2 separate regions of the Homo sapiens genome follow, and region 1 is linked to region 2. Evidence: fine-mapped expression QTL. A gene starts in region 2. The other region holds a variant in brackets. All regions are shown on one strand. Distances are between the middles of the regions. Region 1 overlaps OSBP2 (oxysterol binding protein 2). Region 2 holds the start of TCN2 (transcobalamin 2).

Region 1 (5,000 bases), 110 kb before region 2:
GTCATGTTGTGAGGACACTCGAGCGGCCCTTTGGAGAAATCCACAGGGTGAGGAACTGAGGCCTCCTGCCAATTGCCTGCACCATTTTGCCAGGCGTGTGAGTGAGCCACAATGGAAGTGGAGTCTCCAGCCAGTCAAGCCTTCAAATGACCGCAGCCCTCATGACAGATCCTGAGCCCACTCAGGATCACCCCAATTAATCACCCATAGGTGAATTCATGATCCATGGAAACAATGAGATAATGCTTATTGTTGTCTTACAGTGCTAAATTTCAAGGTGATTTGTTATGCGGCAACAGATAATACACAGTAACACTGAGACAGCCTCTCTGAAGATGAAAAGTACATCCATGTGGAAGGGATAACCCCAGCTGTGTGGGACAGAGAAATATCCCAATGAGGACAGAGGTTGCACGGAAACCTATCTCAGCTCAACAGAAGGATTTTCTAACATTCAGAGTTGTTTAAGGAACAATCAGCTTATCTTAGAGGTTTGCTCTCTGTTACCTGAGAGGTGATAAGGGGGTTGAGATGCTATGGGAAGAAGTCAATGAACAGAGAGATGGTTGGCTTGATGGCACTTTTTGTTGTTGTTGTTGTTCCCTTGTTGTTTGTTTGTTTGTTTTTGAGAGATGGGTTCTATGTTGTCCAGGCTGGTCTTGAACTCCTGGCCTCAAGCTATCCTGGCTCTGGCTCAGTGACTTTTTTTTTTTTTCTTTTTTTTTTGAGACAGAGTCTCACTTTGTTGCCCAGGATAGAGTGCAGTGGTGCCATCTCAGCTCACTGCAACCTCTGCCTCCTTGGTTCAAGCAATTCTCATGCCACAGCCTTCCAAGTAGCTGGGATTACCGGGGTGCGCCACCACTCCCGGCTTATTTTGTATCTTTGGTAGAGATGGGATTTTGCCATGTTGGCCAGGCTGGTCTCAAACTCCTGGCCTTAAGTGATCCACTCACCTTGGCCTCCCAAAGTGCTGGGATTACAGGTGTGAGCCACTGTGCCTGGCCTTGGTGACTTTTAAGTTCCTTACCTAGAGATTCTTCTGCCACCACACCAGGCAACTTTTCCAGGGCCCTGGAAAATCTAATCAGCTTCCCATTCATGGCACATCTCTGCAGTGTGTGGCTGGCTATCAGTTACTGAACACTGATTTACTGTGGGCTGGGACTTCTGGGAGGGAACAGACAAAACATGAGCTACTGGTCCTGCCACACAGCTGCACATGCACACATAATGACACACACTGCCACCGAGCACAAACTAAGGCTGAAAGAGAAGGGGAGTGAGGAGGGCAGCAGCCTGAAGCCAGGGATAATGTTGAGAGGACTGCGAGGCACTCAGGTAAGTACAGGCTGGAGAGAAGGCACAGCGGGAATCAGCTCAAGGTTAAGAACACTCTAATCCCGTCTCTAGAAGGCAAAGGCTCAGTAAGCTGACAGATAAATTCAAACTCAGAAGAACTGCAGGATTCAAAAGAAGAAAATTGCTTCCATGCCTGTATCTAGCAAAATAATTTTATTTTCTGAAAATAAAAAATTCAAAGAAGGTGCCTTTCTTGTCACAGTGCATGAACAACTCAGCAAAAAGTCCCCACTCAGTCTGCCCGCAAGGCTCCCAAGTCTGAGAACCAGAACACACCATCAGCCCTGTTCCCATGCTGCCCCAGGGCTCAGGAGCAAGGGCCCAGGCCATTTCTGCAACAAATCTGTTAGTACTGGCAGGGGGAAAAAAAAGGGGGAGACAAGCACCCGGATGTTGTCACTGCAACTCCGAAGTTGTAAAGTTGCAACTCCAACAGCAGTGCCCAGGGCCTGTGGCCCCAGGGGCAGGAAGGCCAGTGAACACCTGAGGCCCAGCTAAAGCATCCCCCATTCTTTCCCTACCAGGTCAGTCACCAGATTCCTGGCCTCCTGGACTCAGATCTCCAAGCCATTAAGTCAACAGACATTTCCCGAGTCCTTTGATGTGCCAAGCCCAGTGCCAAGCATACAGGTCATCTTTTATATCTCATCTCTCCTCCTCCTCCTTCCAGATGGTTTCCCATCAAATTTTCAGAAAGGTAAGGATAGAAAGAACCCCAGACATCACCTAGCCTAGTCCTCTCACTCTATAGATAAAGAGGCTAAAGGATGTGATCGTTAGAAGGGAGGTTAGAGGCTGTGACAGACTGAAGCATTTCTCCTGTTTCTTTCTGCCATCCCTGAACTACAATTTTAAGTGCACAACTTTTGCCACTGGACTTTGTAGGATCCTCTAAAATGGGGAATGGATATCTTCCCACCCTACTGATATTGGACAGGGCCACATGCCTTGATTCAGCCAATGGAATGTGGAATGGAGTGAGGGTGTGCAGGCTCAAGCTGGGATGCTGTGACTCTCGATTACCCTCCTGTACTTCTGCCATCACAACAGGAAGACACACCTCCTAGCTTACTCCCAAGTGCCACTGCCTGAAGGAGACCTGGCCTGGTCATCTGCGGACCCTCAAGCAAGAGAAAACCACTGCTGCTTTAACCTCAGAGTTTAAATCACCACTGGGCAATGTGTTTTGAAGTTGCTTGATCCAGGAGGACAGGTGAGCTGAGGACTCGATTCTAACTCCCGCCCACCCTCGCCTGTCAGAATGCACACACAACCCATTGTCACTGAGGTGTCAGAGTAGAGCAAGGGATCAGCAGGAGATGATGATGCTGGAGAGGCAGAGATGAGGCCAGTCCTGAGGGGGAGTCATGTTGGCACATATTTGAGATGAATAGAAGATGAATAAGGAGACTCTAAGTGTCAAAATAAGAGTCTCAACCAGCAATCTTTGTCATCAACCTAAGGATCTGCTTTTGACTTCCATCTGCTTTCTTACAGGCTATGGCAATCATTCTTTTTGTAAGTACAGGGCTTTATAGCTAGTGAGCAAAGCCTAGAGATGTGAGAAGGGACTCTAGAGGTCCACTTTCCTGGATGTAACTTCCCATCTGGTCCTGGATGGCACAGCTGCAGCTGGACAGTAAAACATGTGTCATTTCCCCTTAGTGTAGG[C/T]GTTTTTCAAAAGGCCTTGATTTTTTCCCTGTGTCAAATGATCTTTGGCAAGGATGCCAAGATGACTCAGTGGGGGAAAGGACAGTCTCTTCAACAAATGATGTTGAAAAAACTGGATGTCCTTGTGCAAAAGAATGAAGTTAGACCCTTATCTCACACCATATGCAAAAATTAACTCAAAATGGATTAAAGACCCAGCAAGGTGCAGTGGCTCTTGCCTATAATCCCAGCTACTTGGGAGGCTGAGGTAGGAGAATCACTTGAGGCCAGGAGTTCAAGATCAGCCTGAGCAACATAGCGAGACCCTGTCTCTACACACACACACACACACACACACACACACACACACACACACAAAAACAGTAAAATTAAAACAAAATAGATTTAAATGCCTAAATGTAACATCTGTACAACTCCTAGAGAAAACCATAGGCATAAAGTTTCATGACATTGGATTTGGCAATGATTTCTTGGATATGACACCAAAAGCACAGGCAACAAAAGCAAAAACAGACAAATGGGACTCCATCGAAGGACACAACTTAAGTTCCTTGAAGGACACAATCAACAAAGTAAAAAGGAAACTTATGGAATAGGAGAAAATATTTGCTAATCATATATCTGACAGTGGGTTAATGTCTAGAATGTAAGAAGAACTTCTACAACTCAACAACAAAAATCAAATAAATGATTAAAAAATGAGCAAAGGGGCTAGGCATGGTGGCTCACACCTGTAATCCCAGCATTTTGGGAAGCTGAGGCGGGCAGATCACTTGAGGTCAGGAGTTCGAGACCAGCCTGGCCAACATGGTGAAATCCCATCTCTACAAAAATACAAAAAATTAGCCAGGCGTGGTGGTGGGCACCTGTAATCCCAGCTACTCAGAAGGCTGAGGCAGGAGAATTGCTTGAACCTGGGAGGCGGAGGTTGCAGTGAGCCGAGATTGAGCCATTGCACTCCAGCCCGGGCAACCATGTGAGACTCTGTCTCAAAAAAACAAAAAACAAAACAAAACAAAAAAACAAACAAACAAAAAAAGGATTTGAACAGACATTTCTCTAAAGATGTTATACAAACGATCAACAAGCATATGAAAAGATGCTCAGCCAGGTGTGGTGGCTTATGCCTGTAGTCCCAGCACTTTGGGAGGCTGAAACAGGCAGATCACCTGAGGTCAGGAGTTCAAGACCAGCCTGGCCAACATGGCAAAACCCCATCTCTACTAAAAGTACAAAAATTAGCTGGGTGTGGTGGCAGGCACCTGTAATCACAGCTACTCAGGAGGCTGAGGCAGAAGAATCACTTGAACCCAGGAGGTGGAGGTTGCAGTGAGCCGAGACCATGCCATTGCACTCCAGCCTGGGCGACAAGAGCGAGATTCTGTCTCAAAAAAAAAAAAAAGAAAGAAAGAAAGAAAGAAAAGATGCTTGTGGTTGGGCATGGTGGCACAGGCCTGTAATCCCGATACTTCGGGAGGCTGAGGTGGGATACTTTGGGAGGCTGAGGTGGGAGGATCACTTGAGCCCAGGAATTCGAGACCAGCTTGGATAACACTGCAAGATCCTGTGTTAAAAAAAAAAAAAAAAAAAGGTTAGGTGTGGTGGCTCATGCTTATAATCCCAGCACTTTGGGAGGCCAAGGTGGGAAGGTCGCCTGCGGTCAGGAGTTCAAGACCAGCCTGGCCAACATGTTGAAACCCCGTCTCTACTAAAAACACAAAAAATTAACTGGACATGGTGGCAGGCACCTGTAATCAATCACAGCTACCTGGGAGGCTGAGGCAGGAGAATCGCTTGAACCCAGGAGGCAGAGGTTGCAGTGAGCCGAGATGGCGCCATTGCACTCCAGCCTGGGCAACAAGAGTGAAACTCCACCTCAAAAAAAAAAAAAAATCTAAAAATTAGCCATGTGTGGTGGTGTGCACACCTGTATTCCCAGCTACTCAGGAGGCTGAGGTGGGAGGATC
Region 2 (5,516 bases):
CTCAAACACTCTGGAAGCGGAAGCCTTAGGGATAGTTCCAAGGGACTTGAGCTCAGCACAGGGTAGCTTAGAGTAGTTTGCCTCGGAGGTAACCTTGCACTTTCGGTCCCTGTTTACTGCCTCCCAGTTGCTGCTGGGCTCCAGCTGCCTGATGGTGGCCTTCACTGTGCCATATCCCAGGGGACCAGAACGAGGACCAGAGCTCCTAGAACAGCTCCATCTCTGTGGGTCTGGGTCCCACAACCTCGTGTCTGTTTTCCCGACAGCCCCAGATACCTGTTGCTATAAGGTGACCATCCACCAGCATGAAACCCTACATAATCCTTTGCTGTGTGGGCCCAGACCAAAGCACATGGCTGGTTTCTCACCAGATGTTAAGAGAGACTGGGGGGTTGCTTTTTTCCCTTTCTGTCACTGAGAACCATTTTTTGGTGCCTATCTCCATTTCTCCGTCTCTGTCACTCAATGTGTGAGGCTCTCTGGGTCTGTCTCAGTCTCTCTCAGCCTGTGTCTCTCTGGTCATCTGCCCCCCTCCTCACCTCTCTTTCCTTTTCCCTTTTCTTGAAACGCGCAAGGGAGTTCCCTGACCTCACCCCGGGCTCTCACTTCCAGCACGATGAGTCAGCACAGGGTTAGAAACTGAAAGATCAGGATCCAGCTGTAAAGGGAGAGACTGACAACCACAGAGCAACCTCCTTAGAAGGAAGGGGCCAGGCAGATTCACGCAGGGTAATAAAAGCAGCCTTGGGTGAGCTCTCGCCCTACCAACCCAGCCCTGCCAGCTAAGGGCTGATTGCTGTTGACATTCACAAGCACAGGAGCCAGACAGAGTGGCTCACGCCTGTAATACCAGCAGTTTGGGAGGCCAAGGTGGGAGGATCGCTTGACCCTAGGAGTTTGAAACCAACCCTGGGCAATATAGTGAGACCTCATCTCTAGAAGAAAATTAAAAAAAAAAAAAAGAAGAAGAAAGAGAAAAGGAAGCACAGGAGCCCACTTTGCATTAGCGTTTGTGCAGCGATCCCTGTCAATTTCACAACATACATATAGAGCTTTAAACTGGGAGAGCAGGTGTCATGGGATCCTTCCTTGTACTACACCGAGGAGGAAGGCAGGGGAGCATTCTTAGCCCACTTTACAGATAAAGGAATGAGGCTGGGTGCAATTAAGTGACTCAGTGCAGATATTTGCACCCCAAACCCCAGTTCAAGATTCCCCAGACCCCAAGGGATTGGGGCTCCTGTGGGGTCAGGTTAATGGACTAACTGTCCAAGGCTGAGGACCAGATCAGCCAGGAGGAAGAGCTCTTGCTGGTTGAACCCAGAACTCCCCTGGGGACTGTCCGGACATGAACCAAGAGCTGGGGTTCCTGGGCCCAGACCTGAGGTGTCTGATTGCATTTATGGAACACAGATGAGAGGCTTGGAGTTCTGGCCGGGCACGGTGGCTCACGCCTGTAATCTCAGCAATTTGGGAGGCCGACGCAAGAGTTTCACTTGAGCCCAGGAGTTCGAGACCAGCCTGGGCAACATGGCGAAACCCTGTCTCTACAAAAAAATACAAAAATTAGCCAAGCATGGTAGTATGCACATGCAGTCTCCAGCTACTTGGGAGGCTGAGGTGGGGGAATCACTTGAACCCACAAGGCAGAGGCTGCAGTGAGCCAAGATCGTGCCACTGCACTCCAGCCTGGGCAACAGAGGGAGAACCTCTCTCAACAAAAAACAAAACGAAAACAAACGAGGCTTCAAGTTCTAAAAACTAAGTTCAGCAAAGCTCTGGAAAAGGTGGAGCACCCTGAGTGGGTCACTCAGCCCCTCCAACCCTCGACTTCTTCACTTGACACCTGGACATGACTGCACCCACCTCTCAGGGTTTCCCCAGGGTCTCAAGAGACCATGGGGGTGAAAGTGTATTGCTCAACGTAATCCTAGGTGCAGAGGAGGAGAAAAGGCGCGTGGGCGGCCCAAAGTTCCCAAAGCCTGCCTTCTGCCTCCTGTCTGAAGGAGCAGCCCTGAGCCTCTAAGCTCAGACTCATAGACAGGTCCCAGGAGACTGTGCTCCAAGAGACCCCTTGGGGCACAGAGCTGGAGCAGGCAGGACCTCCGAAGGCTCACTTCCTGCTGCCTAGAATGTGTGTCCCCCACTCCTTTCCTGCCAGCTCCTTTTCTTCCTTCGAGTTTCAGCTCCCATGTGTCCTCTTGGTCTTCAGAAAGTCTTCCCCATGCCCAGCTATTTTTTAATTTTTTTTATTTTTTGTAGAGATGGGGTCTCCCTATGTTGCCCAGGCTGACCTTGAACTGTTGAGCTCAAGCGATCCTCCCCTCCCGCCTCAGCCTTCCAAAATGCTGAGATTTCAGGTGGGAGCACCTAACCATTTCTTTTGTCTGTCCCCCTTCCCTAGAACATAAGCTCTAGGATGGCAGGGATTAGACTTGTCTCATGCTTTGCACGTTCCCCAAAGGCTAACACTGGGCCTGACACAGAAAAGGCTCAGTATGCGCTGAATGAATGTGTGAACGAATGACTGAATTAACGGAGATCTTGTCTGGTGAGGAGTCAAACATATAATCAATCACAATAGGATGTGTTAAATGCTGAGGTCCAGCTAAGCCCAAACTGCTATGGGAGCTTAGAAGGGCAGGTAAGTTCCCTCATCCTATGCCCTAGCCACCCCACTAAGGACCCAGGAGGAAAGAGGCACAGGATAGAGGCGAGTTACTCACCACACATCTCAGTGAGGGCCCCCAGGACCCCCAGAAGGAAGAGGAAGGCCCCAAGGTGCCTCATGGCAGCAGCAGGTGGGTGAGCAGTGAGCAAGAATCGGGAAAGACTCCTGGGGCTGGCCCTGCTGAGGCTCTCCTGACCACAGCTGGTCACCGCTCCGAGAGACGCAGCTTCCTGTCACTGATTAATCCTCCATGCCTGCAATGCACGGCTAAGTCTGCAGAGGGGTGGGGCGGGGGAAGGTCTGTGGTGGCGGGGAACATAAGGCCAAAGAACAGAGGAAGGAAGGGCAGAGCAGCCCTCCTGGAGGTAGGGAACAAAGGGAGGAGGAGGGCTAGTGGGACCATGTGAGACATCTTGAGGCCATTCACGTTCCTGCTTAAAGAGCCCGGGACCAGCGCAGAGGGCCTGATGCCTGATCTGTCAAGTCTGTCCGACCGTGCCTGTCTGCTGTCCCCCCAGCTGTTCCAGTGGTGGATTGGCAGGACCGGGTGCCTACCCGGTACTCCTTACCAAAGGAGCCCCTGGTAGTGCCCACCTAGCCCAGGACAAGGAGTGGAACGGGAGCTGCAGCTGCAGTGGTCACGTGAGCAGCATTGCTGGAGTCAGCTGTTTTTCAGCACCGCCTCCCTCAGTTGTGGCGGGAGGGGATTGTGGGGGTGGGGGAGTTGGGCAGTTGGGGAGGGGGAGTTGGGCAGTTCGGTGGGGGGGGGGAGTTGGGCAATTGAGGGGAGGGTGGGTGCCGCTGGCCCCAGACCAGCCAGGCCACTTTTCTCAACCAATCCGAAAGGGCTGGGAGCCTCCTGGAGAGGACAAAACAAAACAAGTTAAAGAATGGGATTAAGTCCGGGCACGGTGGCTCACACCTGTAATCCTAGCACTTTGAAAGGCTGAGGCGGGCAGATCACTTGAGCTCAGGAGTTGGAGACCAGCCTGGGCAACATGGGGAAACACTGTCTCTACAAAAACACAAAAAACACATACAAAAAACCATAAATTAGCCTGGCGTGGTGGCAGACGTCTGTAATCCCAGCTACTTGGGGGGCTGAGGCAGGAGGATCGCTTGAACCCAAGAGGTGGAGGCTACAGTGAGCCAAGATTACACCACTGCACTCCAGCTTGGGTGACAAAGTGAGACCCTGTCTCAAAAATAAAATAAAATAAAAAGAATGAGATTGAATCGAGACACAAAGCTACCAGAAGCAGGGGTACTTGCCAGAACTCGGAAAGTAACCTCAAAAAAAATCTCTGCAAACAGGGAAGAGAACAAAAGATTCCTCATCTGCCCAGCCCCACAGGAGAATCAATGTATACGAGTTAACTAGTGGTGGCTGTGTGACTTTGGCCAGGTCACTTAACCTCTCGAGTTTAAAATAGTTCTTCCTGTGTGAGAAGAGAGGGTTAGGCAAGATCATCCTAACAGTTCCCTTTCAGCTCAATTTGTGAAGACACTATGACCTTAAAATATCTCCAATCATTTCCATGCACAATCTGCATTGCAATTATTTTATGGTAAATTGCCAAGGTTCACTCTTTTAAGACAATCTTTTTGAGCCTGATTTATCACAAACCAAGCCCTTGACATAAATAAATACAGCAACGTGTGTCTGTTTACGGAACTACTTGAAAATTTTAAATGATAGGTTGTCCAGTCAGAAAGGCTGGATGTGGCCACTAGGAGGAGCACCCCTGGAGGTTCTGAGGAAGGAGGGAGGCCAGTGGGGAGCCCAACTTCCGCAGAACCGCACGTTTGGACCTTCAGGGGAGTCATGGTGAAGTGTGTGCAATGGAGCCACCTTGGTCCTGGGTGGGACTGCCTTGGCTCCCCCAACCCTCTGCCTGTTTCCAGTAACAACTATTATGATTCCTATTTCCAGGAAGGCAGCCTGGAGGAGGTGGCCATGGAGGATAGCCTTCGTTATCGTCAGCCTCTGGTGAGAAGCAGCAGCATCCTTCCAGAGAGTCACTTCTGATCCCCAAGGTAGTTAGGGTGTCGAAGTAAAGGAGGGAGACACCCCCCTGCCTACCTACCTGGACTCAGTGCTAGAGGGTGGGGGAGTAGGAATAGGAAGACAGCATATTTCCCATACATATTAGAAATACTGGTGGCTCATGCCTGTAATCCCAGCACTTTGGGAAGCCAAGGCAGGAGGATTGCTTGAGCCCACAAGTTTGAGACCAGTCTAGGCAAGATGGTGAGACCCTGATTCTAAAAAACAAACAAAACCAAAAAATGCCAGGGATGGTGGTGTGTGCCTGTAAGTCTCAGCTAATCTAGAGGCTACAAGTGGGAGGATCACTTGAGCCCAGGAGGCTGAGGTTGCAGTGAGCTGAGATCAGACCACTGCACTCCAGTCTGGGCGACAGAAGGAGACCCTGTCCTAAAAATAAAGTAAAATTAAAAAAAGAAATAGAGTGACTGGTCAGGGGTAGTGCTATTTCAGGTCATGTGGTCAGGGAATGTGAAAAACAAAAATGATTACATCATTTAGATCAGGATTTCTATTTTTTTTATTTTTGAACTCCTGGGCTCAAGCGATCCTCCTGTCTCAGCCTCCCAAAGAGCTGGGATTACAGGCATGAACCACTGCACCTGGCCAGATCAAGATTTCTATTTGTGGTGAAAACTAGCTTGGAATGAGAAAGTAAAAGTCTGCCTGTGCTCCCACTAGACTGGGATAACAGGGACCTCTAAAGCCAGCTGCAAGCCAGCTGCAACATCAACAGGAAACATTTCTTATTTTTTCTTATTTATTTATTTTTTTTGAGACAGGGTCTCACTCGTTGCC

Evidence for each region.
Region 1: its variant is fine-mapped to the expression of TCN2 in fibroblasts (GTEx, PIP above 0.99).

What each region holds. Positions count from the first base shown.
Region 1 is chr22:30,715,480-30,720,479 of GRCh38, reverse strand. All of the region lies in intron 1 of OSBP2 (oxysterol binding protein 2), which reads right to left. Among named protein-coding and RNA genes, the nearest start is that of MIR3200, 14 kb to the left of the region's middle. RefSeq lists an enhancer at 2,433-3,632. The variant C/T (reference allele first, on the strand shown) is at 3,034.
Region 2 is chr22:30,604,606-30,610,121 of GRCh38, reverse strand. It overlaps TCN2 (transcobalamin 2), which reads right to left and starts at 2,948. Exons shown (of 9, transcript NM_000355.4): 1 at 2,727-2,948. The coding sequence starts at 2,790. It also overlaps a transcript of PES1 not described here. RefSeq lists enhancers at 452-731, 506-800, 2,786-3,080, 2,583-3,162.